Linked DNA regions of Homo sapiens. The protein of the gene in region 3 purifies or fractionates together with the protein of the main gene of each other region. This does not show direct contact. Each region holds a gene or a part of one and is shown on either strand. Other genes may lie near its edges.

The links.
Region 1: the proteins of RRP12 (region 3) and MAP3K14 purify together in Homo sapiens (tandem affinity purification; one large-scale study listed by IntAct). This does not show direct contact.
Region 2: the proteins of RRP12 (region 3) and ZNF274 purify together in Homo sapiens (co-immunoprecipitation; one large-scale study listed by IntAct). This does not show direct contact.
Region 4: the proteins of RRP12 (region 3) and CEBPZ purify together in Homo sapiens (affinity purification with mass spectrometry, with the first as the bait; one large-scale study listed by BioGRID). This does not show direct contact.

Annotation. Positions count from the first base shown.
Region 1 is NC_000017.11:45,287,355-45,295,057, forward strand, and holds part of MAP3K14 (mitogen-activated protein kinase kinase kinase 14), read right to left. Parts: intron 3,412-7,703; 5' UTR 3,392-3,411; coding exon 3,136-3,391; intron 1,952-3,135; coding exon 1,882-1,951; intron 11-1,881; coding exon 1-10.
Region 2 is NC_000019.10:58,207,906-58,215,608, reverse strand, and holds the end of ZNF274 (neurotrophin receptor-interacting factor homolog), read right to left. Parts: intron 5,649-7,703; coding exon 5,536-5,648; exon of another isoform or gene 5,179-5,535; intron 4,050-5,178; coding exon 3,923-4,049; intron 3,449-3,922; coding exon 2,466-3,448; 3' UTR 2,047-2,465; downstream 1-2,046. UniProt on the Homo sapiens protein: Probable transcription repressor. Specifically binds to the 3'-end of zinc-finger coding genes and recruiting chromatin-modifying proteins such as SETDB1 and TRIM28/KAP1, leading to transcription repression.
Region 3 is NC_000010.11:97,354,093-97,361,795, forward strand, and holds the end of RRP12 (RRP12-like protein), read right to left. Parts: intron 6,527-7,703; coding exon 6,454-6,526; intron 4,919-6,453; coding exon 4,851-4,918; intron 4,528-4,850; coding exon 4,445-4,527; intron 3,105-4,444; coding exon 3,002-3,104; 3' UTR 2,609-3,001; downstream 1-2,608.
Region 4 is NC_000002.12:37,199,686-37,207,131, forward strand, and holds the end of CEBPZ (CCAAT/enhancer-binding protein zeta), read right to left. Parts: exon of another isoform or gene 6,367-7,446; intron 5,059-6,366; exon of another isoform or gene 3,324-5,058; coding exon 3,265-3,323; exon of another isoform or gene 3,181-3,264; coding exon 3,099-3,180; exon of another isoform or gene 2,219-3,098; coding exon 2,079-2,218; 3' UTR 2,040-2,078; coding exon of another isoform or gene 1,957-2,039; 3' UTR 1,927-1,956; downstream 1-1,926. Other genes in the region: protein CEBPZOS, read left to right, coding at 20-134, 1,363-1,407, 1,957-2,039. UniProt on the Homo sapiens protein: Stimulates transcription from the HSP70 promoter.

The DNA.
Region 1 (7,703 bases), on a different chromosome or scaffold from region 3:
CTCGGACTGGCTGTCACAAAAGGGACAGATTTGCATATTGAGCACGAGGAAGCAGGAAGATGGACTGGTCCAGACACTTGTATCTGGACTCCTGCAGATCCAAGGTCAAATCCCAGGTTGCCATTCCTTGTGTGAATGCGGCAAGGTTTCTAAATCCCAAGGAACCTGTTTTCTCACTTATCTCACTTATAAAATGGGTTTGGTATTTTCTGCCATACAGGGTGGAAATGAAGTTTCAATAATTTAGTTCATTTAAAAAGCCCAGCTCAGTGTCTGGCCCCAAGGCAAGCTGCCGAGAAGCTGTGCTTGTTACTATGGTGATGGGGTACAGACTCAGCACTTCTTGGGGAGAGTCAGGGGAGCAGACACGGTTCGCTCACTGCTCTCCAAGGTGAGCTGCCCCTGGAGAGTTCCTAGGAGGGGGCCACGCTCATGGCAGGCCTCTCAGCTCTGACTGAGCAGAGCTTGTTTCTGTTGCCTCCGGATGGAGGAACAGGTAAGGCTGGTCACCTCCATTCTCACAGTTCCTGGGGGTCCCTGGCTGCTGTTGAAGGTGAACAGCCTGGGCTGCTGCCTGGTACTGGGGAGCCTGCCCTTCTCTGCTGGCCTCGGGGCTCATCACTGCCATGGCTCTAACTGGACTGGGATCCCTGCCAAGTATTAAAGGACCCGGCAACAGATGGGTTGCTGCAGAACAGCTGTGGAGCAGATCATGGCCTCAGCCACCCTCCCTTGGCCTCATCTTCTGCCCCCATGGAGAAGGCAGACTCATGGCAGTCCTGGGGACCACTGGAGGCCTACAGGCTTCTCTTGGACAGCTGAAAGAAGTGTGTCTATCAGAGGCTCCTACCCTGGGCCAAAAGGCACCCAGGACAGCAGAAGGAATCCCACCAAACTGAGCATTTCTTGGTTCCAAGGCAGCCAGCTGCCCTCCCCACAATCTTATCACTAGCAGGTTCCAAACTCCAATGATACAAAACCTGCCTGGTGATAGGGGAAGGAGCTGTTTCTAGCTTGAACTCTTGTTTTTTTTTTTTTTTTTGAGACAGAATCTTACTCTGTCACCAGGCTGGAGTGCAGTGGCACAATCTCGGCTCACTGCAACCTTCGACTCCTGGATTCAAGCGATTCTCCTGCCTCAGCCTCCTGAGTAGCTGAGGTTACAGGCATGCGCTACCATGCCCAGGGAATTTTTGTATTTTTAGCAGAGACGGGGTTTCACCATGTTGGCCAGGATGGTCTCGATCTCCTGACCTCGTGATCCACCTGCCTCGGCCTCAGAAAGTGCTGGGATTATAGGTGAGAGCCATTGTGCCCAGCACTTGAACTCTTGTTTCAAAAAATCATCTGTGGGGGAATGCAGAGCCTGGGAACAGACTCAGCCCCACCCTGGCTTCCTTTCTACCGGGCCACCAAGTCTATCTGTCCCCTCCTTTTCTACCGCCCGCATCCCTACTCGGTGCATCTCCCAGGAGAAAAGGCACCAGCAGGTTTCTCCCATAGAGGACAGTGGAAGGCCCCCCCCACCAACCCGGCCTGCGCTCACGGTCACGCAAGAGTGGGAAGCAGCTTCTGTTCCCAGCACCCTCCCTGTTGATGGGAAACGAGGGGGTGCATTAAGGACTCTGAGGAGAATAAAAATAAAATGTCAAGTTGATGTGGCCCAGAGGCAGTCAGCCACAAGCTGTGAAAAGCCTTTGAAAAGCTTATTTGGCTGAGAGAGCGGCTCAGCCAGGAAAGCCTGGGTGAGTTCCAGGAGCTGAACCACAGGTGCTGAGGGAGGGAGCCCGGGGTCAGCAGGAGCGGCCCAGGCAAGTGCTGGGGACGAGGGCGCTGGGTCCAGTCCCCACCTTCCCACTCAGGCTTGTCTCCCCTGCTTACCTGTACTGTTTGGACCCAGCGATGAAAATGCGTTCTGAAAAGGTGGGGCTGAACTCTTGGCTATTCTCACCTAAAGCAAAAGGAGTTGGATTAGCAGAGAGGAGAAAAAATAGGAATTTAGCACTTAGGGGAGAGACATTTTACAGAGATCCCCTCTGGCGCCTCTCCTTCCCCTCCTTTCCAGACAACCCCTGTCTGGCAGTCACCTCCCCACCAATGCCTCCTTCCCGCACTGTCTCTCCCCAGCTTCTCAGCTTACTGGTCAAGAGCAGACCACGGCCTCAGCCACCTGCTCTGAAATAGCCAAGCCTATATTATGGGGATCACAGGGCGCCCGCCTCACTTCCTATGAAGCTGAAGTGAGATGATCTACAGAAAATGCTCAACACAGTGCCTGGCTCATAGGAAAAACAGCTATTAGGTATTTATATATGTGTGTACATATAAGTGTGGATATATGTGTATTTTTTTAAAACAATTATTATGTCACTCTCTGTATTTTAGTTTTTATTCTCTCATCTCTCCTCAAAAACCAACCAGGAGGAAGTGGGAGACGAGGGCAGGATGTATGCGTGTGGAGAAATGACAGCATGGCTGTCCAGCTCTCCAGGTTCCACCCCAAGAAGCCTCCCGGGTTGAGGGAAGGCGTTGGAGAGAGAGGACTCCCGGCCCTACCCAGGCCTCGTGGGAGTTTCTGTCTCCAAGGGAAGCCACCATTACTAGTCATCATAAGGTATCATGAGTAGAAGAAGAAAGGACCAGACTAGGTCTCACCCTGCAGCAGCCTGCCGCCCCAGGACTGGCCCAGCAGGCTCAAGAGCACGGTGCTCATTCCTGGGGGTGGGGCCACCTCTAGGTGGAAGATGGTGAAGGCCCTACAGGCCCCAGTGGGGCTTTCCAGGAGACCTGGCCTTTCCTGTCTGGAGCCTCTCCAGACACTGGGGCTGCTCAAGGTCACAGCAGAAGGTTGATGGCCTGCTTGATGATTCTGCAGAGTCCCGAGTGCTCGTCTGTTACCTCTCTTCCCCTGCTCCAGTCACGATGGGCACAGTCTCCCCTTGCCACATCCACCATCTGTGCACTTTTACAACCCCACTTTCCATGATTCTCGGCACAGACCTCTGGTTGTGTCTCATGAGAATCTTATCTAGCAGTGACACAGACCTCTCTCCTCCATAGGGAACCCCTGGGCCCAGCTACCCACCTGCAGGCCCACCCACCTGCCCCGTGCCCACAACAACCCTAGGCCCCTACACTCAGCCTGGGCGATGATAGAGATGGCAGCTGGCCCTGCCTCGGAGCCTTCCTTGGCTGTGCCCTTGGTAATCACGTCATTCAGGATCTCCCACTTTCCGCAGAACACAGGGCTCTTCTCCACGGCCTCAAGCTTGTAGACGGAGCTCTGTTTCTTCCCCAGTGGCGGCGTCTTCTCCTTGGCTTTGGGGAGTTCCTTCTGCTGCCCCACTGCTGAGCCAGGGGCACCTGGGCAGGCCATTTCCATCACTGCCATCTCCCAGGCTTGTGCTCATCCTGAGAGAGACCAAACACAGAGCAGGTCACTTAGAATCCCAGACCTGGGAGAACACAGGTCAGCCTTGGGTTGGGGGAGAAAGGCAGGGGCAAAGGGTCTCTGCCTGTTTATGTGTGCCTCTGCCACACATACTCATCCTCCAAACATCCTCAATGGTAACAGAGTCCACCTCTCAACAGCTACACGTTCCACACGGCACAGTCCCCCGGTCCTCCCAGTACCACAACATAAACAGCCTCCTTCACTGTGTCCAGCAAGGATGCCAGCCCACTCCCTCTAGGAGAGCTGTGGCACAAATGTCTGGGTTGGCTCTTTCTTGCCTTTATGATGGCTCGATCTTTTTCTGTTGTTTTATGGCAAACTTTGTTTCCCCAGGACAGGGTGGTGAATCCCAGACTCCAAAACCATGGCCTCACTGACCCCACATAAGCCTTTGGAGAGGACCTGTTGGCACACACCATCCACAGCGACTTTTCTCCAAGTGGAGAGAAGCAAGGTTCTATTCTGTTCCCTAGTAGGAGGTAGATATCTGTGTGTGTGTGTGTGTGTGTGTGTCCTACAAAGTCTAAAACTCAGCATGCAAATGGTGCTCAGCACGTGGTTCCTTGCCCAATGCGTCTGTTTGTGGCTCTCCAGAAGGAACTAACATGCTTCCTCCTCTAATGTCCAAACTCATTGGCTGAAAACTTCTAGGTATCATTTTTCATTCAGGCAACATCAGGAGTAGAATTTATATTCAAGGCCCTAACACGAACCTATACCTCTAGAAATAAAGAATAAAGCATAAGAATTCACGTCTCTCTGGGTTCTGTCTTGCCCAGCCCTAGGAAGCTGCAAAGAAGAGCAACCCAGAGTTGCCAACAATCTGTGCAAACAGCCTGCAGACTGGAATTGGCAAAAAAGAGAAGAGCACTGATTTGAGACTGTTACCATTTGGAAACCTTTTTAAAGGCTGGGAGTTTTTAAAGGGCAGGGCCCCTCTCAGGCATGACTTGCTTTAGAAACAGCCTGAGAAGGTCCCAAATGCAGACAGATTTTTAATAACTGCTCTCTGATGGTAGGTTTGTCTTAAAGCTGCTACCAGCAGAAATCATCTTCCTTGCTATAACTCTGTGAACCCTGGATCACTTCTCTGCTTCTGGGGCAGACAGGTACACCATCTGAAGCTGAACTCTAAGGCCTCTGGCCTTTTGCCCTGTGAGGCCTGAGGACTGAATGAGATGGTGGGAAGCTGAGGTACTAGGTTGAAGCATTCCTCCTTCTGAATCTGCCTCACTGGTCTTCCCACCTCGATGGCTATGAAAGGCTCTGCCAGCTTGGCTGGCGGGTGTGGTGGGGTTTGTTGTTCACTATTGATTAGTTCCTTGCATCTCTGTCTTTAAGGGTCTCCTAGCTCTGAACTTGGAGCAGCTCCAGCTTCCTGCAAGGATGCCTGGATTTGGTACCAAACGCCAGATGCTGAGGAGGCTGAATGGGTGGCCTCACTGTTACCTGAGGATCTTAAGAAGTCTGAGGGGGCCGGACATGGTGGCCCATGCCTGTAATCCCACCACTTTGGGAGGCTGAGGCAGAAGGATTACTTGAGCCCAGGAGTTCAAGATCAGCCTGGGCAACATGGTGGAACCCTGTCTCTACAAAAAAATACAAAAAATTAGCTGGGGTAGCTGGCCTGTAGTCCCAGCTACTCTAGAGGCTGCGGTGGGAGGAATGCTTGAGCCCAGGAGGTTGAGGCTGCAGTGAGCTGAGATTGCACCATTGCATTCTCCAGCCTGAGTGACAGAATAAGACCCTGTCTCTAAAAGAAAAAAAAAGTCTAAGGGGTGTTCTGACATCCAATTAGGCAAAAGCCCTTCAAGGCTGGCTATGCTTCTTGTAACTGTACTTTCATCCCACCTCACACCTCCCCACCCCACTCTACCTCCAAAAAAGAAACTGACCTAAGCCCAGAGCCGATCCCACTGTTCTCAGCCTCTTTACCAGGGGAAATGAGATCTTAAGAACAGACCAAAAAGTCTCCAAACCTAACAGCAGTAGGGAATGCTCACAGGGAGCTCGATGTGAGCGTGACCTCCTCATTTCTATTTGAAGAAGCTGAGGCCTAATTCAGTGGAGACTTGCCCAAGGTCACCCAACCCACGTGTGACAGGACATGGCCAGGATCCAGACCCTAGGTTCTTTAGGCTATGATGCCCACTCCCCAAGCTCCTGGGTTACAGGCAAATGCAGGAGGGCACACTAAGGTCCTCCCTGGTCAACAGGCTCCTGAGGGAAGAGGTGGGGCCCTGCACACAGTGCCTCCCCAGTGTATAGCACAGGGGCCACAGACCACGCAACTGACGCTGGCTGAACGAGGGACTCAAAGGACAAAGATTGCTTTTCCATAACCTTTGGAGACAGGATGATCCCGAATGCTGAGGAGGAAGAGAGAGTCCTGCCTGATGAATGAGAAAAATGAGGCCAGGTGGTGCAGTTGCTGCTCTGAGGGGCACGTGGCTATTAGAGATCTGGCTGTGTGGGGGCTCTGATAGCCTGTCTCCGCCTGGCATGGCCCAACGGAGGCTTCTGGATAGGTCATCCTGAGCTAGAACTCCTCCAGAGGGGGTGCAGGGCATCCCGAGTCCCAGAGTTGTCCTTTCATATTGGTGTTAGGTAGGCAGCTGTCCAGCGCCCCTCTGTGAGCACACCAGGCTCCCCTCTTCCCAGAGAAGTGGAAGCTGAGGCTGAGGCAGCCACGCTCAGAGACTCCTTTGCAGTTCCCCGATGACTCATCCAACAGCCTGGCAGGCAGACAGTAACAAGGAGGCTGTTGAGAAGCTGACCCAGCAGATGGCAGCTGAACTTGTGAAGGACATGGGGAAAACAGGCTGACCCTCACCTCTCAGGGGCACAAATCACGGCCTGGGAGCTGTAAAGCTCCTCCTGTGGCTGGCTTTTCTGTGCCACATCACCATGACTCAGACCCTCACCGACAGCCTCCAAGTTCAAGAGGCTATTCTTGGGACACTTTGGCCTGACAGTGGCTCTCCCCAAACACCACCTCCCACACAGACACACATGCACACACACACATGCACACACAGACACACACACATACGGATGCACTTGCTCCCTCCCTCCTTTCCTAATTCTATCTGGACTCTGGTCTACAAAAATCATGGTTCTGTACTAAGTCCAGGACTACTGGCCAGGGGGCCTTCCCAGCCCTGGACTTTGGTCTCTGGCTGTCACCCCAGCTCATGGCCCTAACACTTTGCCCCTTCTCCCTCCTGCAGCGTGTGGGGAGGACGAAGTGGGAGCCAGTTATGTCTCTGCCTTTGAAGGCAAGTCAAACTCCTGATTCATTCCTCAGCCTAGACACTCTCCTCAGCTTATTCACGCCCCAAAGGCATTGGGCCCTCTACTCTCTGCATAAGAGTTGAGGACACGAGCAGTGGCAACAGCCAAACCCACATGGCTCACCCATAAGCCCAAGAAATCAGAAGAGGAAAGGAAAGGAGCAGAATTCACTCCATATTCTTTGAGGCCTGATGCACAGACACTGTTGGTTCTTTCTTCTGTGATGCCTCAGTGACCTCCTGGAGAAGCCTGGGGGATAGGAATGATCTGGACAGTACCAGATCAACCTCTGGGCATAGCTGTATGAGGAGTTCTTAATCTAGGTTCAAGGATGGATTCAGGGAGAAAAATGTAATTTGCATTTTTCCAGGGAAGACTTGGTCCATAGCTTTCAACAGATTCTCCAAGGATCTGCCATTCCCCAGAAGGTTCCTCTAGTCTCCCTAGAAAATCAGGGCCGGGCTAAATGCCTGATTCTGGCTCTATTCTTCCACTCCGAGGAAAAGCTCTCCAATGCAGCAGTTTCCAATCTGACCACAGATTAGAATAACCAGATAAGTTCTTTAAATGCATTCCTCCTAGGCCTGCTGAACCAGTCACTGGGCATTAGGCCCAGAATCTGTACTTTTGACAAGTTCTCTGGATGATTCTGATGCCAAAGGGCCAGAGACTGCCACCTGACCCCTGCTCTGTACTCAAGGCGACACTGTCCAAAATGGTAGCCACTAGCAACATGTGGCTATTTACATTTAATTAAAATGAGGTAAAATTTTAAAATCATTTCCTTGTTACACTAGCTACCATACTCAACAGTGCAGACAGAGAACATGTCCAGCATTGCAGAAAGTTCTATTGGACAGTGCTGTTCTGAGGTGATGAGAGCGGTGTTTTCTCTGACAGTAAAATTTCTGTTCCTAGGATTCTGGGGCAGGAATGGGGTTTACAGTAAACAAAT
Region 2 (7,703 bases), on a different chromosome or scaffold from region 3:
CCTGAGTAGCTGGGACTACAGGTGCATCACCACACCTGGCCTTTTTTTTTTTTTTTTTTTCCAGACAGGATCTTGCCATGTTCCCCAGGCTGATCTCTAACTCCTGGCCTCAGATGATCCTCCCAGAGTTCTGGGATTACAGGCGTGAGCCACTGTGCCCAGCGTCATGTACCTTTTCACTGGTGTACTGGATATATGGAACGTGGACCCTCCAGGCATTAATCTTCTTTCTGACAATCACAGACCCAGTGAGGAGCAGAGCCAGGATTTAAACTACATCTAATAATTGTGTCTAGTGGGTCAGCTCCCACATGTGCAGCCTCTCTCCCTGCCTTCCTCTTCCTGTCTTGCAAGCACAGGTGGGGATACACAGTATTTAAAGGTAAATGCTGGCATACTTGTAGACCTTTTTAACCAGAGTTGGCCACCACACTCTCCTGCCTTTCTTAACCTTGGTACTCTCCCTTCAAGAGATGGAGTTTAACCCCCTTCCCACTGAATCCGGCTGGCCTTAGTGACTGGCTTGTAAAGGATAGACTGTCCTGGGGTGACACCATGTGACCTAGGCTGGGTCAGAAAAAGCCATGCTGTTTCTGCCTAATACTGTTGGAACCCTGGCTCTTTGGATGAGAGAACCTAACACAACTGAACTCAGCCTTAGAGCCACCTCAAGCCCAGGTGCCAGCCATGAGATGAGCCATTCCATACCTTGGAATGGACCCACTGGCCTTGTACTTTGTAGTTCCAATCAGCTCTCCCATACCCTAGTATGTTCTCCCCCTTTCCTATTCCTGGGTCCCTTATTTTCCCAGACCCAGCTCAAACCATCATCTCAGTTCCTGAAGCCATCACTAAAACTTTGGACTCACCCCTCAGTCTAGGATTTGGAATCTGGGAATTTTTAGTTTACCAGGTTCTAATCTCAAGGGTCCCATTCTTTGGTTCATTCTTGAGAGGTGATATTGTAGAGTTCTGAACAGCTGAGGAGGCTGTTTTTACCAACTAACGTCCCTGGGCAAGTTCTTCAACTGTGTATGTTCTCAAAGAAGCTAACATGTGCCATATTAAAGTGCTGAAATGACTAGAAGCAACATAGCAACCACAAGCCCTGTGCCCAATGTGTGAATGGCAATAGGGCTGCTGGTGTACCACCATCATTCTCCAGGCACATGGGCTCAAGGTATCTACTCTGGTCCTGTCTCCAAGGGTTTTTCACTTCTGCAGAGAAAGGAGGTACTCTCATCCTAGATGGCACGACTGCACCTCACCCTTGTTGGCAAGACCCAAGGGTTCTAAAGAGGCTATGCAGAGTAGCACTCAACCAGTGTCTTGAACCTAAGTATTTTTGATCCAGAGTTTTATGTTAAATGTTACATGGAACTCAAGAGCAAAGGTGGAGCCTAGAACAAGGAATGGAGCGGGTCATATACTGTGGGCTATGTGACCTGGAGAAAGAATGTGAACTGTGGGCAAGTACATGCTCTAGTATTGCCAGTGTCTTTTTGCTTAACTTAGTGATGGGCTCCTGGCCAGAGCAGTTGCCTTCCTTGTGATAGTCTCTCAGGAAAAATGGAAACACAAACCAAATGAAGCTAGGCATGGTGGTGCATGCCTATAGTCCCAGCTACTTGAAAGACTGAGCCAGGAGGATCTTTGAGCCCAGGTGATCCTTTGAGCCCAGGTGTTCGAGGCTACAGTAAGCTATGATTCTACCTCTGCACTCAAACCTGGGTGACAGGATGAGATTCTGTGCGAAAAATAACAAAAGAAACATGAATATTCCCAGGAAGCCCCACACTTGCCTGGGGTTTCCAGCCCTTTGGGTTTAAATTTTCCTTACCTCCACCTAACCATATCATGACAACCCCCTAAGGAGCAGAAAGATTCAGTCATCCCAACTCACATAGTATCTTGTGCCCAAGGTGCTGCAGCCTTGCACAGAATCTTCTAGAACTATCTGATGATCTCCTTCCTTGTGTTTTAATGTTGCTTAAATATTAATCATTACTATAGAGATATTTAAGCAGGCAGGAAATACACAGGTTCTACACAGACATAGATCAATAGTTTATTTATCCACATTATCTTTTAATCCTTAATTCATACACATAAATACTGTGGTACTGTGGATGTAATATCAGTGCAGATTATTAATTACCTGGCTTTTTAAAGTTATTATATAACATTTTCAGATTTTATTAATCTCACTTTTAATGACTAAATGAGTGAACAAACAATATCAAGTGAATGGGAAATCTTTTTTCCAAATGATGTTAATAACTCCTCACTCATTTTCTTATTTATTCATTATGTGCTGGGCAGTCTCCTCAGTTGTCCTTTGGTTTTGGGAATGTCCTCACTCAATACTTCCCTTTCACATTCAGTCCTGATTCACAAGCAGGCCTGTGCATGTTATATTGCAGGGTCAAGCTGAAAAGGCAAGGTTTCTTCAACTGGCTTGAGAGCTATGAGGTAGGCTGTTTCTTCTTTCGCTTTGTCCTATTGTGGGTTCTCTGGTGCCCAATAAGGTGTGAGCTCTGGGTGAAGGCCTTTCCACATTTGTTGCATGCATATGGGCGCTCCCCGGTGTGAGTCCTCTGATGTCTGATGAGGTGGGAGCTCTGGCGGAAGGCTTTTCCACAGTCCTGACACTTGTAGGGCTTAGCGCCAGTGTGAGTCCTCAGGTGCTGGGAGATGGCTGAGCGATCATTGAAGGTCCTCCCACACTCCTGACATTCAAATGGTCTCTCTCCAGAATGAACTCTCTGATGCTGTGTGAGGGAAGAGCTCTGAACAAATCCTTTCCCACAGTCTTGACACACATAGGGCCTCTCTCCGGTATGGATTTTCTTATGCACAGAAAAGTATCTTGGGTTCCGGAATATTTTACCACATTCACTGCATCGGCAAACTTGGCTCCCCTTGTGAATTCTTATAAACGTAATCTGTTTAGTACTCCGACTGAAGGTTTTCCTACAACCATTGCCTTCCTTGGCCTTTTGCCTTTCACAGCTCTTCTGATGAATTTTTACACGTGAATTATGTTTCATACTTTTAACTTGTGAGTCACGTTTGCGCAATCGTTTTCTAGGAGGAATTTTGTGGAGCAAAACTTGGTTTGTGTCAAGAGCGCCACTGTTTGCCTGGGACTCAGGGTTGTCAATTTTCTGGAGCGAAACTTGGTTTGTGTCAAGAGCACCACTGTTTGCCTGGGACTCACGGTTGTCAAAGTGCTTCTTCTGAGGAAGGTCTTTTTCCTGAGCAGACTCCATCTGCTTCAACACTGTGTCTTGGACTTCCTGGACCCCACCCTGCAAGGTATCTTCTAATGTAGAGGACAAGGCACAATCCCTTGAGGATTCTTGTACTTTCAGGCTGGGGGCTGGTTCTTCCTCAGGAATGTCAGAATTTGGAGCTAACTCTTTATTTTCCAGTGTAGTCTCCCACCCTGAAAAAAATAAACAAAAGATGTGGATCCCATAGAGAGATGTGCTGGGATGGGTCTGAGAGCATGAAATGCATAATTAAGTTCAAAAGTCAGGATTTTTTTTTTCTCCCAAATAGAGTCATGCAACCTGGAGAGAGACTGAAAAGCAATGAAGCGGCAGGGAGGGGAGCACTGACCTTGGTGAACAAGGGACAGGAAGGGCAGGGAGTGTCCTCCGAGCTCTTCGAGTTCCTGTTCTCTCATACTCCCTCAGGAGATAGATAGCAAATCACTCCTTCACCGGACCTAAGGCTGCTTCTGGCCACCCAGTGACCTCACCCCTCTAGGTCTACAGTTCCACTTACAGGCCCTGGATGCAGCAAGGGCCCCTTGAGGGAATGCCCAGTGTGGAGTCTAGAGAAGGTGAACACCCCTGACTTGGGGCTCCTGTGGCCTACCAGCCCTGAGGTGGGTGAAGAGGGGGCACAGCCTTACCCACAGAGACCAGGTGCCCAAAGGTCTCCAGCATCACATCGCGGTACTCGGTCCTCTGTGTCGGGCCCAGCAGCCCCCACTCCTCCCGGCTGAAGTCCACAGCCACATCCTGGAAGGTCACTGGCTCCTGTAACATCACATATGTGTCTATGCTCAGCAAGAGGGTCAGAGGGTTGTCAATGAGGGCAGAAGAAAGGCCAGCTGGGAGGTTCTGACAGAGCTCACGGTGCTAGGGACTCTCCTGCTTTGGGGATTTGCTCAGAGACACCAACCCAGGGCCCACAAGAGTTCTACTGGGTCCAAACCAGGGTCTGGGTCTCAGGCTGGGAGGCAGAGCCCTTGCTTCATAAAGAGCTCCAAGTGCAACAAGCAAACAACTCCATCCTAACCACGGCTCTATCCAGCTTGCCCATTGCTGAAATCTTCCCACTGCAGAGGGTTCTCCATCTATTAATACTGTCTTCCCACTTGGTGGAAATGACAACCAAGCCCCTGCCTTTGTCGACAGGGCTGACCTGGGGGAGGGCAGTCACCCTGGCACAGCCATGACTGGTCCTTTCTGGGGAACTGACCAGGACTTTGGGAAGAAGAGGTACCCCCAACGCTGCTTTGCCAGGATCTGAGGCATTTTGCTTACATGGGGCAGAATCTGCCTAAGAAGAAAGGGGAGTGGCCACGCGCAGTGGCTCACACCTATAATCCCAGCACATTGGGAGGCCAAGGCGGGTGGATCACCTGAGGTCAGGAGTTCGAGACCAGCCTGGCCAACATGGTGAAACCCCGTCTCTATTAAAAATACCAAAAATTAGCCGGGTGTAGTGGCAGCTGTCTGTAATCCCAGCTACTCAGGAGGCTGAGACAGGAGAATCACTTGAACCTGGGAGGCAGAGGTTGCAGTGAGCTGAGATCGCGCCATTGCACTCCAGCCTGGGCAACAAGAGTGAAACTCCATCTCAAAAAAAAAGAAGAAGAAAGGGGAGAAAGCAGAGCCATGAAACAGGTTGGCCAGAGATTCTTCCCATCACCTGGGAGCACCTGGATGCAGCCTTGCCTGAAGCCTACCAGAGAATACATGAGAGCCAATAAATTGACTTCTACGCTTGAGCCAGTATAAGCCATTTGCAGTGCAAACAGGTCTGACCAATGACACATACATACCACTACCCCAGTGGTCAGCGCATCAGGACCAATCTTTTTCACCCACACCCCAGCTCTGGGTTATTCTGAAGCAAATCCCAGATACCAAAGATAAATACCTAAGTATGCATTTCTGAAGGTTGAGGGCTCTCTTGTTCTGACCTGGATACAGATGTGCCTGCCTGTGGTAGTTCCACCTCTCAAGTCTCTGTAAACACTTAGTCCCTTCCCTCTTGCCTCCTGCTTTCTCAGCTCCCGGGTCACCATGCGTTGTCTCCAGTGATGCCACAGTGGCTGGAGGGCAGGGCTGCTCTTCATACTCAGATTGCTTCAGCACAGACCTAAGAGCTCAGAATCTCAGAATGTCCCAGCCTGTGGGAGGTCTTAGGAAAGCCCAGGGCAGAGTGGATGCCTCAGGGGTGGGCCTGCCTCACAGGAGATGCTGTGACCAAAACAGGGTGATACTCCCCGCTTACCTCAGGGAGCACTGTCACTGGGCAGATGGCTGCATCCTCCTGCTTCTCCTCCTGCTGGGCAGTGACCTCGAGGCAGCAGGTGGTGCCCTCGGCAGGTTGTCCTGCAGGAAGTACTGGGAGGAGACACCAGCCAGAGGAGGTCAGCAGGTGTGGGGACCCTTAGGCAGGGCAAGGGTGGCCTCTCTGCAACCCATGGGGCCACCGCACCCCTGCATCGTACTGTGGCTCCATGACAGCCTCTGCTCCTGTCCTCCCTTCCCACCAGCTCTGCTCCCCTCACAGCACGTGCCCGAGTGCCCACACCTGGATGGGCCCGGGATGGCTCACCCTCCAAGGGTCACAGGGCACCAGTGTCCTCACTGCTGAGACTCTGGTCCCACTCCTTCCCTTTCCGGGGGCTGCTGAGGGCCCCAGCCCCTCCTGTGAGGCAGCTGACTGACGCCCCCTCCTTAGAGTCAAAGCCCCTGTTTCCGGCCTCCAAGCCCTGCACCCTGCCTATTTGGGCACCTCTTCCTTCTTCCCTCTCTCCTCCCACCTCATGGAAGGTGAGACTTTCCCTGGACCCATGAAATGCAGCCATCTTGAGGTGAACGTCACCAAGTCTCCTCCACCTAAGAAAACAACAGCTCCACCTGGCCCAAGGGCCCCTGTAACCACGGCTCCTTCATTCTAACCTTCCTCACATGACCCCAAATGGTCCACAGGCTTCCACAATGCTAATCTACCCCCACCATCAAGGTGGGCCACAAGATGACTTAGGCTGGCACACTGGACCATCCCTTTCTCTTGGCCACAGTGATTAGATCTGGGATGAACACAGCCTATAGCCAGATGATTGGAGCCAACAAGGCCTTAGTTGGAACATTTGGGAAAGAGAAATCCCATGCAGGGAGACAGCCTGCCCATGATGAAGCCAGTGGAGGGCAGAAGAGGTAAGAATGAGGGACAGGACAAGTCTGGAGGACACTATTGGAGCTCCTGGGTCCAGCCCTGCCTGATGCTCGAGCACCCTGGAACTTTTCCAATAAATTCTCCTTCTCCCTTGAGCCATTCTGTGCAAGGCTTTGCAGCAGTCACACTCAAGCGTCCCAACTAACACACTGATCACATAATGTGAGATTCTCAGGGTTCTCTGGAAAGCCTCTTCCCATTGTCTTCTGTGGCACTAATTTATTTTATTCACCCCTGAGGTTAAACACAGGGTGAATTCACTGACTTTCACCTCATTAACCCCACAACTGTCTCCTTGGCACCTAACTAACTAGTTTCCTATTGCTGTTATAGTGAATTGCCACAATGCCAGCGGCTCAGATTAATGCAAATGTATTACCTTATGGTTCTGGAGATGAGAAGTCTGGTTTGTGCCTCACTGGGCTAAAATGAAGGTGTCAGCATGGCTATGTTCCTTTTGGAGGCTCCAAGGGAGAATCCATTCCTTGCCTTTTCCAGCTTCTAGAGGCTGCCCCAAACATTTGGCTTATGGCTTCTTCCTCTATCAGCTGCTCCTATCATTACATCTCCTCTGACCCTCCAGCCTCCCTCTCCTAAGGGCCCCTGTGGTTATGTTAGATCCACTCAAATAATCCAGTGCATCTCTCCCTCTCAAGATCCTTAATTGTTTCTGCAAAGTCCCCTTTGTCATGTGAGGCAACTTATTCACAGGGTCCAGGAGTCAGGACATGGACACCTTTGGGGCAATTATTCTGCCAAGTACAGCACCCCAGACTTGGTGCATCTGACACAACTCATGCAAGTGCCTGCCCTGCTGCCTCGGATACCCGATCTCCAGGATGCCCTGGCCTCTTAGAATCCCACCATCCCCCTGCAGGATACCTTCCCCTTTCCTGCAATCACAAACATCAACCAGTCAATCATTCGTTCACATCAGAAACATCTTCTGGGCACCCGTGAAATGTGGAAAATGGAGGTGAGCAATGCAGAAGCATGCACGCTCTGTGAAACTCAGCCTGATGAAGAAACCAAGTCTTGCAGTCTTATTCCCAAATACACACTCCACACGTGTAGTCTCTCCCCAGTCAGACATCACCATCACTCCTATCCAAGACACCACCCCATCAGAGGGCATGGCAATAGCTGCGGGTAGCCTGTGTCCAGCCTCGCCCCCATCCTCTGTCCACCATCCACCACACATGCAGCCTGGTAAATCT
Region 3 (7,703 bases):
AATCACGAGAAGGGAAATAGTGAAGGGGCAAGGTCAGTTTAACCTGACTCACCCATGGCCAGAAGTGTCACAATGTGGACATGACTAGACCGCCTTTGCAAATCCCCAAAGCTTGACCACTCCCTTGGCCAACTGCAGGGTTGCGGTTTTCGTAGTCAAGCAGGGTAGGACCTGTTTTCCATTTCTGAGAATGAGTGGAGGATGGACCCCAGAAAAGCAAGCCTCAGATTGACATTCCCAAAAGCACAAATTGAAAATCTGGAGAGTGAGAGCTCTCAACTTTCCTATTCACCCTAAAATTGGATGAATCTTTTGTTGATGAACACTCCTAAGACTCTCTTTCGCCACACTGTTGAAACAACACTGACTTTGTTTTTTTTTTTTTGAGACAGAGTTTCGCTCTTGTCACCCAGGCTGGAGTGCAAAGGCGCGCTCTCAGCTCACTGCAACCTCCGCCTCCCGGGTTCAAGCAATTCTCCTGCCTCAGCCTCCCGAGTAGCTGGGACTAGTGTGTGCCTCCACACCCAGCTAATTTTGTATTTTTAGTAGAGACAGGGTTTCACCATGTTGGCCAGGCTGGTCTTGAACTCCTGACCTCAGGTGAGCCACCTGCCTTGGCCTCCCAAAGTGCTAGATTACAGGTGTGAGTGATTGCGCCCGGCCTCAAGAACACTGACTTTCAAAATACACCTGAAGTTTCAGGGTGAAGATTAATTCTTGCCTCTGCATCAAGATCACTTGCATTTGAAGTCTACTTCCAAAAGAATATGGCATTCAGCACATCACTAACACCAACCTTTCTAGGTCACCTGCCTTTCCCATCTTTAAAAGAAAACAAAGTTCCTTGGAAAATGTGCTATATATAACAAGGAGGTTGGCTTCACGCTTTCTTTTTTTTTTTTTTTTGAGATGGCGTTTCACTCTTGTTGCCCAGGCTGGAGTGCAATGATGCGATCTCAGCTCACCCCAACCCCTGCCTCCCGGGTTCAAGTGATTCTCCTGCCTCAGCCTCCCGAGTAGCTGGGATTACAGGCATGCACCACCATGCCTGGCTAATTTTGTATTTTTAGTAGAGATGGGGTTTCTCCATGTTGGTCAGGTGATCCACCCGCCTCGGCCTCCCAAAGTGCTGGGATTGCAGGTATGAGCCGTGCCTGGCCTTTTTTTAAAAAACAAACAAACAACACCAATAAGCTGGGCGCAGTGGCTCACGCCTGTAATCCCAGAACTTTGGGAGGCCAAGGTGGGCGGATCACAAGGTCAGGAGTTCGAGACCAGCCTGGCCAACATGGTGAAACCCTGTCTCTACTAAAAATACAAAAATTAGCTGGGCGTGGTGGCGGGTGCCTGTAATCACAGCTACTCAGGCGGCTGAGGCAGGTGAATTGTGTGAACCTGGGAGGCAGAGGTTGCAGTAAGCTGAGATCACGCCATTGCATTCCAGCCTGGGTGACAGGGCAAGACTCTGTGAAAACAAACAAACAAACAAAAAACAAAACACCAATGCTGGGCAATTGGCTCATACCCCTATCTACTTTACACAAAGCTTCCCAGTGCACGTGGTCACATTTCCTGAGAAAGGAAACAGGAAGGACTGGGCTTGGCTTACTTCGGCCCAACTTGTGTCCAGAAGTGTAACAACGGGGAGTATGGTTAGATCCCCTCTGCAAATCTCTCCTAGCCACTCCTGACCACCTTTCTTGCTTGCTCTCCAATTCTAGATTTCTGTGAACAAGGCATGTAAACAGTGCCACCTCTGGGCCGAGTGTGGTTCCTTTCAGCTTTTCCTAGCCCCAAATCATTGGGAGGAAATGCCCTAATTTGGGGAGCGCCAGATCCAATTAAGACTTGGGTCCCCTTAGATAATGAGTGGAAGAGTGTGGTGGGACAGGCTGCCAGGAGGTGCACAGGGCCTCCTGGGACCATTATCAGAGCCAAGTGCCTTAAACTAGAATGGAAACGAGGAATGTGTGCATGTGCTCGCCTCACGTTGGGAGGATCTGAGATGGGAAGAATGTATCAGTCAGGTGCTAGGGCACAAAGCACACTCATACTGGGGTGTGGGAACAGTGCTGGGGTTCTTTGCTTCTGGCTGCCTGTGGGATTGTATCCACATGAGGGGACCTGGGCTGACAGGACAGTGACCTCAGGACTTCTGTGCCATGCCCTTCTCTGCTCCAGACCAACAAAGCTGGCCCAGTGAATCACATTACACAAACAGATCCCCTTGTCTGGGAAAAAAAGAATGTGGGAAGACACGGAGGTGAATGAACAAGGCTATGCTGGGCACTTAGAGGGGCTCAGCAAATACTTTGTTGAATCAATGAACAAAGATGCTGGAGAGACTTGTGCCCAGGACAGCTGGGGCAGTCCCTGGTGCTGAACTGCAGCTCCCGACACCAGCCCTGGGGCATTCGCTGCCCCTCCTGACACAGGTGGGTGCTCCCGGGCAAGTTCCAAAGCCTGTCCTATGGGCAAAGCCTTATGATATGCCCTGGACTGGATGTAAGGAGTTAGACAGGAAGAGGTCAGGCCACTGCTGCCAACAACTGCACACTGTTCTTACCCCTGGAGGGGGCAGACTATGAAACAGTTTCTAGAAAAAAAATGCAGGATGAGACACATTTATTCTACATCTGGTCACAGTAAATCTCACCCAGACCACAGGCAGGATGCCACGTGGCTACAGGCAGCTGGCGGAAATGGAGATCATCTGTTCTGGTGCTCATGGCCACTCTGGGCAGAAAGCAAAGGTGCCTCATGGCACCTACTCAGAGGCACTGAGGCCACATTCCCATCTCCAGGCACCAGGGATGTCTCTGAAGGGTGATTCCATTTGGAGTTTCCAAAATCCAGGACTTCTGAGAGCCAAGCCCTAGTTCCAAGTCATCCTGAGTCCAGGCTCTGCCAGAATCTTGAGCACCTGGAGCTGGTGGCAAGGCAGCCTGGGGGCTGAAAGGGCCTCAGACTGGACCACAGGGCAGCCCAGGGGCCCTGGGCCTCAGGGTCGACGATCCTTTCTGCGGTTTTTGTGTCCCACCTGGGAACCTCGCCGGGCAGCCTTCACCAGGCCTTTGAACTGTCCCTGCAGCTTCATCTTCTTCCTGCAGGGCCAAGGAACGGAAGGGTCACATCTGGCTGAGAATAGGAGGCCCCCTCCTGTTGCCAAATGATGGCTCACCCCCAGCGCCAGCAGGGATGAGAAGGGGGCCTCCAGGTGGTGGCCAGCACATGAACTAGGCAGACCTCACGTGGTTCCAGCTTCCACACGGCTCATGTCCTGACCTGGACATTCCACTTTGGCACAATTATCCCCCTGGAAACAGGCCTCCCTTCCATTTTTCCTCTAATGTATGTCCAGAGAAGGTCAAAGCTCCCTCTGCCCACCCATCCCTCCATTGAAAGGTAACTTACAACCCGCAGAAGCTAGAACTTTACAACACCATTTCCCTAGTAACATTAGTTTCCAAAGCAGTCCTACACATAACCCAATTTAAGGGCCAAAGTCGGAAACAACTCTAATTTCCTACCAATAAAGGGATTAGAAAAGCAAATTATACAAAGCTATTAAAAATGATGACTATGGCTGGGCGTGGTGGCTCATGCCTGTAATCCCAGCACTTTGGGAGGCCGAGGTGGGCAGATCACAAGGTCAGGGGATCAAGACCATCCTGGGTAACACAGTGAAACCCCGTCTCTACTAAAAATACAAAAAAATTAGCCGGGTGTGGTGGCGGGTGCCTGTAGTCCCAGCTACTCCGGAGGCTGAGGCAGGAGTATGGCGTGAACCCGGGAGGCAGAGCTTGCAGTAAGCCGAGATCGTGCCACTGCACTCACTCCAGCATGGGTGACACAGCGAGACTCCGTCTCAAAAAAAAAAAAAAAAGATGACTATGTAGAGTATGTAAATACCAGAAAACATCTGTATGACATAATATCATGTTTAAAGAAGCAGTTCAGGGCGGGGCACGGTGGCTCGTGCTTGTGATCCCAGCACTTTGGGAGGCTGAGGCATGCAGATCATGAGGTCAAGAGATCGAGACCATCCCAGCCAACGCGGTGAAACCCCATCTCTACTAAAAATACAAAAATTAGCTGGGCATGGTGGCACGCGCCTGTAGTCCTAGCTACTCGGGAGGCTGAGGCAGAAGACTAGCTTGAACCTGGGAGGCAGAGATTGCAGTGAGCCAAGATCGCACCACTGCACTCCAGCCTGGCGACAGAGCAAGACTCTGTCTCAAAAAAATAAAAAAATAAAGAAGCAGTTCAAGTCAGTAATACAGGTAGGTACCAGCTACATGATATAGGTGCATGTTAAAAAAAAAAGCTGGAAGAGACTCAAATTGAGCTGAGAGTTTAATAAGGCCTTCCCTTCTTTAGAGCACTCTGCTCCCTCATCCCCACCCATCCTCCAGCCCCCAGCCTGCCTGGCACAGCGTCATACCTGCGGTTGAGCTTGCTTCTGTTGAGGGGGATGTAGGCATAGGGATCCGGCCGGCCTTTCTTCTTCACATCACCTTTTGCTTTCTGCTTGCCCAGAGAAACAGAGTCAGCTAGGAGGGTGGGGTTCCCCTTCTGTCCCTGCCCTAGACTTGACAGGCCCCATAACCTCCCTTCATCCTCTGCCTTAGGTGGTGCCAAAGAGCTCCTGTATCCTTGGAAGGCCATTCAATAAGGTCCCCCATTTCAGATGCCACAAGGTCTTAGCATCTGAACCCCTTCTTCTTTCCTGGCCTCAGTTGAGTTCCAGGAAGGTGCCTCTCAGGACAGTGATGGGCACAGCTCCTCCTTGCCCCTCCCTGGCACCTGTCCAGTGCCAGGAGACCCCATGCCCTACATGCAGCACTTACCTTGGCCTTGTATTCAGCCCCAGGCATAGCCTTCTTGGCCACAGGGCGATGAATGCCAGAGCCTCCAGCTACGGGGAGAACACAGGACCATGAGTCAGGCAAAGCCAGGGCAGCCCCCTCCAGAAAGGCAATGGGCACCCTCTCTGAGAGAGCTGCAAGGGAGCAGATGAGTGAAGGCCAGGAACTTGGCTCTGTCCCCTATCAAACCAGGACAAAGACCTTCCTCGAGGAGGGACTGTCTGGTGATTTGACAGTTAGATCACTGGGCTCCTCAGACTGACCCAGAAGCCTTACAGCTTACCAGAGACCTCTGGGAACACATATATTCTCCGCTAACACACTAACAAAAAATAACCCATATTCTCCAAAGTCAGACAGAATTCAGCCAGCCAGCCAGCCAGGTTCAACTCCCAGCTCTGCCACTTACAGCTCCAACCTCAGGCAAGCCTCTTAACCTCATCTGTAAGAGAAGCCATTTTAGGCTTTCCCTTCTTATCTCATTTGGGTTTCACACAAACACTGAGATAGCAGGTAGCTATTTAACCCATTGTAACAGATGTGAACACTGTGGCTTAGAGAGATCAAGATCCTTGCCCAAGGTCAGCTGTCTTCTCCAGCCTGGACTTCAACATTCAACGACAAGTTGTGGATGGAATCCTACCATGCCAGCTCAGGAGGACTCTCTGAGACGACCAACACGAACCACCCCCATTCCTCATGTTTTTGCAGATGAGAAACTAGAAGCTCAGAGACAGACAGTGTAACCAGGCCAAGGTCAAACAGCTAAGCAGAGGTTGGGCAAGCAGCCCTGACCCCAGGTCTCTGCCTCATCAATTGGCAGGTACTCCTGCCTCAGCATCACTCCATCCCAGGGCACAGTAGGTGAGCTGGCCCTGGCTCATGGGTGCCACAGGCGGAAGAGCCATGAGGTTGTGCAGCTGCGTTATGATGCTCTAGGGCTGAGGACACACCAGCTACTGGAATCAGAGGCTTCCCACAGGAGCCCCTGGACCTCCAGATGCAAAGCAAGGGCTCTGCTGCAAGGGCTTGGGGGCAGGGGTCCTGCAAGGCTACCCTGGGAGGAAGGAAGCAGAGGTGAAGCCACCTTGGCACTTCTAGCAGCTGCTCTAGGAGGGCAACAGCTGGTGGGCCCAGAGATAGAAATAGAGGGGAACCCTCTGGCCAGACCCAATACCAACCTTCCCAGTTCCCAGCCCTGGCACCGGCCAAGTGGCTTCTCTAAACCCAGCCTGACTCGGTTGGTGCTCTTAGGGTGACCAAGAGAGGCAAGCAGCTCGCAGAAGGGACAGACTCAAGCCTCTTGGGAGGCCTGGGCGGGTGGGAAGGAGCTGTGGCTCAGGGCTCCTCAGAAGGCTGGTGGTTCCATGCACAGATCTCCTAACCCATAGGCTCTCTCACACCCCCAGGGCCCCTTAGACTCCAGGCCCATCTTGAGTGTCATATCAGCCAACCTCTGTTGGTGCCAAGTGAGTGCAACCAGGCTGTGCACCCTCATGGCCCTGCCACCCCTTCCTGTGACTCCCCTCCCTAATGCAGGTGACAGGGATCCATGTGTCCCAGGAGAGAGGAGTGGAAGCCTCACCTTGGTACTGAGGGGGTATCTCCAGCTCCTCCTCCTCAGCCTCTTTCTGGTGCTTGAGCTTCTGGTGCTTTTTCTATAGAGAGAGAATAGGTGGGTAGTGAGTGAACCAGGGGATGTGCCCACCCTCGGGAATGCCAACAGTAACAGCAGAGTACCCTGCATCAAGCAGGAGAGGCCCTCTGCTAAGCACCCCACCTCTCACTTACAGATGGGGAAACTAAGGCCCAGAGAGGGCAAGGAACTGTCCAAGATCACAAAGCCAGGCAGTGCAGAAGAGAAGCTCTGGCCATGTCCTGACTGCCGGGCTGGTGGCGGCCGTTCCTGCTCTTCCTTTCCACTCTGGGCCCCACCCAGGCCTGCAATTGCCCAGAGGGCTTCTGACATCAGCTTACCCAGCCTTCCTAATGGGGAAAATGAGGTCCCTGGCCTCTTCAGAGAGAATAGCTTTACCAGTTCTTTGCTTCACACAAACCCCACCCCACTCTCCCTATTAATCACTCACTTACTGATCCCCTACTAAGTGCCAGGCCCTGGGGACACAGGGCACAAGATCTAGTTCCTGTGCTCCACGGGCTCTCAGGCGGGTGGGAGACCCCTGCTCAAGCCAGTCATCACTGATCCTCAACAATGCTACCATCCCAGCAGGTATGATCATGGACAGTAAGACACGTCAGCTCGTCAATTATATTCAACAGGAAGTGACAGAGCACCTACTGTGCGCCTGGCACTGTGTTAGGCAGTCCAAGGGAAGGAGGGAGAGCCCGACAGCGGCCCCAGCCCATCAGATGTGAGCCTAGAACCAACAACCAGGCCAGGCAGAGGCGTGCTGTGCAGGGAGGGCAGGCAAACAGAGGTGGCCCCAGCTGGCAAGGCTGGTCCCTGCACTGTGGTCTGTGCCACTGTGCCCCAGAAACCTCTAGAAACTGCAGATTCCCAGGGCTCCAGCTACCCAGGGGATCCAGAGGCCAACCAGGGGAAAGGTATGCCAGGTAAAGGGATCGGCCTGGGCAGAGCGAACAGGCTGCAGCACACACAGGGTGTGCCTGGGAGACGGGGGACTCCAGGTCCACTGGCCGAAGCCCAGCTGAGTGGGCTCCTAGTGGAGAAACAGGAACCGGGAGGAAGCTGACTCCGACTGCAATGTAGGGGATGATGGCTGAGCTGGCTCTTGGTTCAGCTGGTGCTTGGCCAACAGCCCAGCCTGCTGGCCCTGAATGGAGGCAGCTACTTGAACCCCAGCACTTCATGCT
Region 4 (7,446 bases), on a different chromosome or scaffold from region 3:
ATCTGTTGTTAAATTTAGGATGGCCCGTACTTTGGAACCACTAGCAAAGAAGATCTTTAAAGGAGTTTTGGTAGCCGAACTTGTAGGCGTTTTTGGAGCATATTTTTTGTTTAGCAAGATGCACACAAGCCAAGGTAATCATAATTCAGAAGTTAATGCTTTCTAAAGGGGTATAGTTTTGCTAATCCATTTTATGTGTTAAATGGCAATGGCATGTTTGGAGAAATTGGTTCTTCAGATTCAAGATATTAGACATTTTTAGGGGCAGAACAGGAATCAAAGTATTCATTATTGTGGACTAGATCACTCTCACTTCTCCCTTAAAAATGTTGTTTGTGGGCTAAGGAAAAAATTTCATACCTCCATGGATTTTACTATTGTGGAGGATATAGCAAGTGTCCTTGGTCTGGCTTAGTTTGGGAGCACAGATGGAGGAAACTTAGCCTGCCCATTATACTTCATTGTTTGGTAGACTAAGAAAGTAACTGGTATTGCTGTTTTCTGAGTAACCAGTTTTCTCAGGCTATAGTATTCTTCCTGGGCATCAACAGTGGGCACTAAGACTTTCACATGCTATGGCCGAAAGTGCTTTAACATTTTTCTTGGGGAAATTTTATATTAGAGCTCTCAACTTTTTAAATTAGGAAGTGATTTTTCCCTAAAACAGGGAATAGACCTGGCATGATAGCCATCTTTGAAACTTGCCACAGTCTTCCTCAGCATACTTGGTTGGAACGCTGTACCAAGATGCTACTGGATACTCAAAAAATCCCTTTTCTTTTAAACTCTAAGGAAGGGTATTAAAAAAACATCCCAACAGTATTTAAAAACAAATTAAAGCTTGGGATCAGTTTTAAAAAGTGTCATGGCTGGGTGTGATGGCTTGCACTTGTAATTCCAGCACTTCGGGAGGCCAAGGTGGAAGGACTGCTTGAGCTCAGTCTGGGCTAAACATAACAAGACACTGTATCTTAAGAAAAAAAAAAAAAGTGCTGGGCATGATGGTGTGCTCCTGTAGTCCCAGCTACTCGGGAGGTTGAGGTAGGAGGCTCCCCTGAGCCCCATCCCAGCTACTTGACCTTGGCTGACGTAGGAGGCTCGCTTGAGCCCAGCCCAGGGGGGTCTAGGCAGTGGTGGATTGTGACTGTGCCACTGTACTGCAGCCTGGGCAACAGGGAGAGAGATCCTGACTCAAAAAAACAAAAGGAGATCGTTCCTGGATTACCAGAAAGACCTTCAAACAAATTTCTAATCTATATGGTTCCCATCATATGGACCCTAAAGCTAGCATTAAATTGTGGCTGTGTTAATATAATGAATTTCTGTTCATATCTAATTTCAAGACATCCTTTTTTCCATCAGATTTCAGGCAAACAATGAGCAAGAAATATCCCTTCATCTTGGAAGGTATGTTTTTCCTTAAGTAAAAATAAGTATAAAACAACTTCTTCAGGTAACCTATAAATTATGTAGTAATTTCTTTACAAGGAATTTCTAACAATACTATTCACATGTATTTTAGTTCTTCTGAGACTAAATTCTCATCTATTCTAGTGAGAGGAGAATTAGGTAATGGGCTGGATTCTGAATTCTTCTAGTGGTTAAGAATGTAAACTCTGGAATCATTCATATATGAGGTGATAGAATCAAACCACAGTTTAAACCTTTGGTTTTAAAAGATCAGTTTCATCTCAGGTTTGCTAACTTCTTGGAGCTGTCTCTTTCTCTGTCAAGTAGATAAAGACTGAACAAGATGACATCATGTAGTTAGACGAAATAGTGCTCATTACAATGATCAGAGATGCCAGGACTTATATGTGAAGTCTGTAATCCTACTGTCCTCTTTTTCATTTTGTTATGTAGCAATATGGAAAAAAGAAGTTGTTTTTTTCAATACATTTAATTTTAACAATGCTTCCACATGACTTTATAAATGAGAGCTATTTTTATTTATAGTTTATTACAAATCCACTGAGAAGTCTGGAATGTATGGAATCAGAGAGCTAGATCAAAAAACATGGTTGAACAGCAAAAATTAGATGTAAGTAGAATTTTAATCTATAATTTACATTAATAACTCATTTCCTTTGTTTTTTAGTTTTTTGAGTGGTTTTAATCCTCTTCTTTTTAAAATGTTTCTTTTTCTTGATGATACTTTTTGCATCTCTGTTGTGTAGCCAGTCATCACGTTCAGCCTCCCATCTAAGCTGTTTGAGACCTTTGAGAGAAGAAGAAAAGATGAGTGTACTACCACACTGTAGACTCTTGGTGGTCCCACAGAACATGCTGCTGAGTCACAGGAACTTCTAGCCTGCCTTGGCCTGTGGTTTCCCACCCACTATACAAACCCACTGCTTGTTTGTTGCTTTTCTTCTCATATTTATTGTCAAAGATAAATGTTTCAAAAAGAAATGACTAAGGAAGGAAAAGAAACAAATGCTCTAAAGATTTTCTCTCCCCAAGCACTTTTACTGGTGAAATAAAAACCAGTAACAATCAATATGTAAAAACGGCCCACTTCCCTAAAAAAAAGTAATTTTTGTAGTCTGCAAGGTTTTTTTTTTTTTTGCTTTAGTCTAAATACTTGTTAATCTTACATGTTCTCCTGAGAGAAGAAAAAGCCATTCCTTTCAGGTTGTAAAGTACCATGAAAAGGTCTTTCAAAAATATTCCTATCAGCCAGGCATGGTGGCTCACACCAGTAATCTCAGCACTTTGGGAGGCCGAGGCAGGCGGGTCACTTGAGGTCAGGAGTTCGAGACCAGCCTGGCCAACATGGTGAAACCCTGTTTCTACTAAAAATACAAAAATTAGCTGGGCGTGGTGGTGCATGCCTGTAATCCCAGCTACTTGGGAGGCTAAGGTAGGAGAATTACTTGAACATGGGAGATGGAGGTTGCAGTGAGCCAAGATCATGCCACTGCATTCCAACCTGGGCAAGGGAGTGAGACGCTGTCTCAAAAAAAAAAAAAAAAAAAAAAAAAAAAAAAAAAAAAAAAAAAAAAAAGAATAAATAAAATAACGAAAATTTCCTATCTTCTGAAGTTCCAAGCCAAAGCTATTTTTAAAACATCAATAAAAAAATTTAAGTTACTTACTTGCATTATCTTTGTTAGCCATGGCATTCATGCCAATGTTATCAAACTTGGATCCCATATTTTCATCCAATAGATGGCCAAACTTTTAAACAAAAACGATAAATTTATTAGAAAACTAAAAATAATGTAGAATAGCTAGCTTGTTAAAACAGTACATTAGCCTTACCTCTTCAGCAGATACAAATAGGCTGGAATCATTTAAGTTTCTTTTCTTTTTTCTTGGCCCTAAAAAAAATTGTAAGTCTACATTATTCAATTATAAATCTAATGATTTTAGAAAAATGCAATGCAACATGATTTTATTTTAAAAATTATACTTGGGTAAAAACAATTGCAATAATCTTCTGGCACCATTGGGTAGCTGGCATTTAAATATAATTTAAGAGTTAGTATATAATATTTTCAAAAAGCTAACAACATCCTAATAGAACTGTTCAGATGACAAGAGTGTCTTCTTGCTTTTCAGATTTGGCCACTGATCGAAGTTTTACCCATAAGGGAAATAACATAGTATCAAGCAATAGTAAAATTATCAGTTTGACATGGATGGGTTTTGAAATACTTAAGACACAACATAAAATTTAGTTCAGGGGTCTTTAGATTGTAAAGAAATTGACTGAAAGTATGTTTATTATGCTATAAATGAAGTTGTTTATAACAGCGAAAAAGGTTCTCCTTTAAAAAAAAAACTTATCTGTAGTACTGAATATATAAACTTTTCCTGAAACAATTATTCAAACTCTGCATCTTTGATATCAATGTCTCTAGCAGTAGTAGAGCCATATTTTAAAAAGAGCTTTACTAAATACAGATCATAACATTCAGCTGTTTTAAGTGTATTAACGCATTTTGGTAAATTTACAGACTTGTTCAACCACAACCACAGTCTGATTTTAGAACATTTCCATCAACTTCAAAGATCCCTGGTGCCATTTGTAGTCCTCCAACCCATCTCCGATCTATCTTGTTTCTATGACTTGCCTTTTCTGGCTATTTCATATAAATGGGATCATATGACATGTGGTTTCCTATATCTGACTTTTTTCATTTAGCATAACGTTTTTGAGGCTCATCCATGTTGTAGTACTCCATGCCATGTTGTGGGCTACATAATATTCCATTGTATGGATATACCACATTTTGCTTATCAGTTAATGGACATTTAGGTTTTGTCTACTTTTTGGCATTAATAGTGCTGCTGTGAACAATCATGTACAAGTCTTTGTATCAGAGCCACTTTTGATAAAATAGTTTCTAAAACATTTCATCTTGATTTTTATTAAGGTGATATGTATGTTACTTAACAGCTGTATAATACACATTTGCATGCATTAGGAAGTTTTTTTTGGGTTTTATTCATCCTGTAGTGATGTATCTGTGACCTCAACGAGTAGGCACTTCTGTACTGTACTGGTTTCTTAAAGTTTCTTTTATCCCGCCCCCACCCCCAACCTCAGCCTCAAGTATGTAACACCATGCCTGGCTAATTTTTGATTTTTTTTTTTTTTTTTTTGAGACAGAGTCTCGCTTTGTCGCCAGGCTGGAGTACAGGGGCGTGATCTCGGCTCACTGCAACCTCTGCCTTCTGGGTTCAAGCGATTCTCCTGCCTCAGCCTCCCAAGTAGCTGGGCCTACAAGTGCATGCCACCACGCCAAGCTAATTTTTGTATTTTTAGTAGAGATGGGGTTTCATCATGTTGGCCAGGATGGTCTTGATCTCTTGACCTTGTGATCTACCTGCCTTGGCCTCCCAAAGTGCTGGGATTACAGGCGTGAGCCACTGCGCCCAGCCATTTTTGATTTTTTGTAGAGATGGGGTCTCATTGTGTTGCCCAGGCTGATTAAAGTTTCTATAAGGTATGTTTATTCTTAAGGATATCTACTCTAACACCTGTAAATGTAGGGTGATCAATTAGTAAATTAATAAATCTGAATCAATTAATAAATCTGTTTAAAATTCCTTGCCTCTTTTTGTTTCAGTCAATTCTGTTGGGTATTCTTTAATCTGCATCCAAAACTATTATCAATTGAGATCTGAAATCCTTTCAGGCTAATGTCTTCTGAAACAGTACTTTACTATTTGAAACAAGCTCAGAGCATCTTTTTTAACATTAAAAAATTTTTTTCTTCTCCTCAAATTCCTTTTACCAGCATCTTTTAATAAAAGGCTCAGTAGAACTTGAAGTAAAGCAACACTTTTCTGTGGGATGCTTTTGAGAAAAACTGCCTATATCTCATCTTATGCTAATACTAAAACATGATCTTAGATACTCAAGGGAAGACAAAATCTGGAAGATAACGTGTTATAATTTAAATATGTATCAGTTAAATCATAGTTATTACAGGACTAAGAAATTGACAGCAGTATTTGAAAGAGCTGATAAAATTTTGTAGGCGTGAGGCTCTGAAAGACTACTACCAATATGTAAATGAAACTTTTTGTCAGGCCTCTGAGCCCAAGCTAAGCCATCATATCCCCTGTGACCTGCACGCACACATCCAGATGGTCGGTTCCTGCCTTAACTGATGACATTCCACCACAAAAGAAGTGAAAATGGCCTGTTCCTGCCTTAACTGATGACATTATCTTGTGAAATTCCTTCTCCTGGCTCATCCTGGCTCAAAAGCTCCCCTACTGAGCACCTTGTGACCCCCACTCCTGCCAGGCAGAGAACAACCCCCTTTGACTGCAATTTTCCTTTTTTCTACCCAAATCCTATAAAATGGCCCCACCCCTATCTCCCTTCACTGACTCTCTTTTCGGACTCAGCCCGCCTGCACCCAGGTGAAATAAGCAGCCTTGTTGCTCATGCAAAGCCTGTTTGGTGGTCTCTTCATACAGACGCGCATGAAACTTTTTAAAACATTATTATTATTTAACTTTGCAGATCTATTTTTAGTCATCAGTATTTAGCAGTAAGCAGAAGCCAGAGAGGCACTGGAGGCAAAGTATGTACAGTGCTTTCTACATTTTTATCAAAAATCTTAAGACTGTCACCTGATACAGCACTTTTTTCTTTTATTAGCACCTTGTGTTACACTGTGAAGCAGAATCTTGTAAGATAATACTTTTAAAAATGTTAAAAAACAATTAGCAGAAAGAAGAGTTCGTATCATAATAAAGGAGCATGGATTATTGCAAGGGTCAAATGGCAAATAATGGTTGAGAAAAGAAAAAGATAACAGGTGTCTGAAAAATGCAAGGCTTTTATAATTGAATGGTTTAAAAATGAATGAGCAGAGATTAGCATGTGAATCTCTGGACTAGGTAAGGAAGATCTGCATTCAAATGTGAGTGGGCACCATCCAATCTGCTGGGGCCCTGGAGAGAACAAAACAAAGAGGCAAACATGTTGATCTGCTGTGCTGAGGAGGAAAATGGCGGATAAGGGGACAGGACTAACGTGCAGCTCCCACATGGATGGACAGAACAGCGTGTGGCAACGTGTTTAGTCTCCTTAAAAGGTATCCAACAAAACTAAGCTTCCTAAATGAAGGAGAGATATCTATGCTGAGAATTCACCACTACCAAGCCAGCACTATAAGAAATGCTGAAAGGAGTTCTAAATCTTTGTTTTTTGTTTCTTTTTTTGAGATGGAATCTTGCTCTGTCGCCCAGGCGGGAAGGCAGTGGTGTGATCTTGGCTCACTGCGACCTCTGCCTAATGGGTTCAAGTGATTTTTGTACCTCAGCCTCCTCAGTAGCTGGGATTATAGGGGCTTACCAACATGCCCAGCTAATTTTTGTATTTTTTGTAGAGATAGGGTTTTGCCATGTTGGCCAGGCTGGTCTTGAACTCCTGACTTCAGGTGATGCCCGCCTGGGCCTCCCGAAGTGCTGGGATTACAGGTGTGAGCCACTACACTCAGCCTAGGAATTCTAAATCTTGAAACAAAACCTTGAAGTACACCAAAATAGAGCCTTCTTAAAACCTAAATCTTACAGGGCCTATACAATAACACAATGAAAAAACAACAAAATCAAAGTATTCAAGCAACAACTAGCATGATGAATAGAATAGTACCTCACATCTCAAATACTACGTTGGATGTAAATGGCCTAAATGCTCCTCTTAAAAGATACATTTGGACCACCAACCAAGAATCTGCTGTGTTCAGGAGACTCACGTAACACATAAGGACTCACATAAACTTAAGGTAAAGGGGTGGGAAAAGATATTCCATGCAAATGGAAACCAAAAGCAAGCAGGACTAGCTATTCTTATATCAGACAAAACAGACTTTAAAGCAACAACAGTTAAAAAAGACAAAGAGGGACATTACATACTAGTAAAATGATTAGTCCAACAAGAAATGTCATAATCCAAAATATATATGCACCTACCAC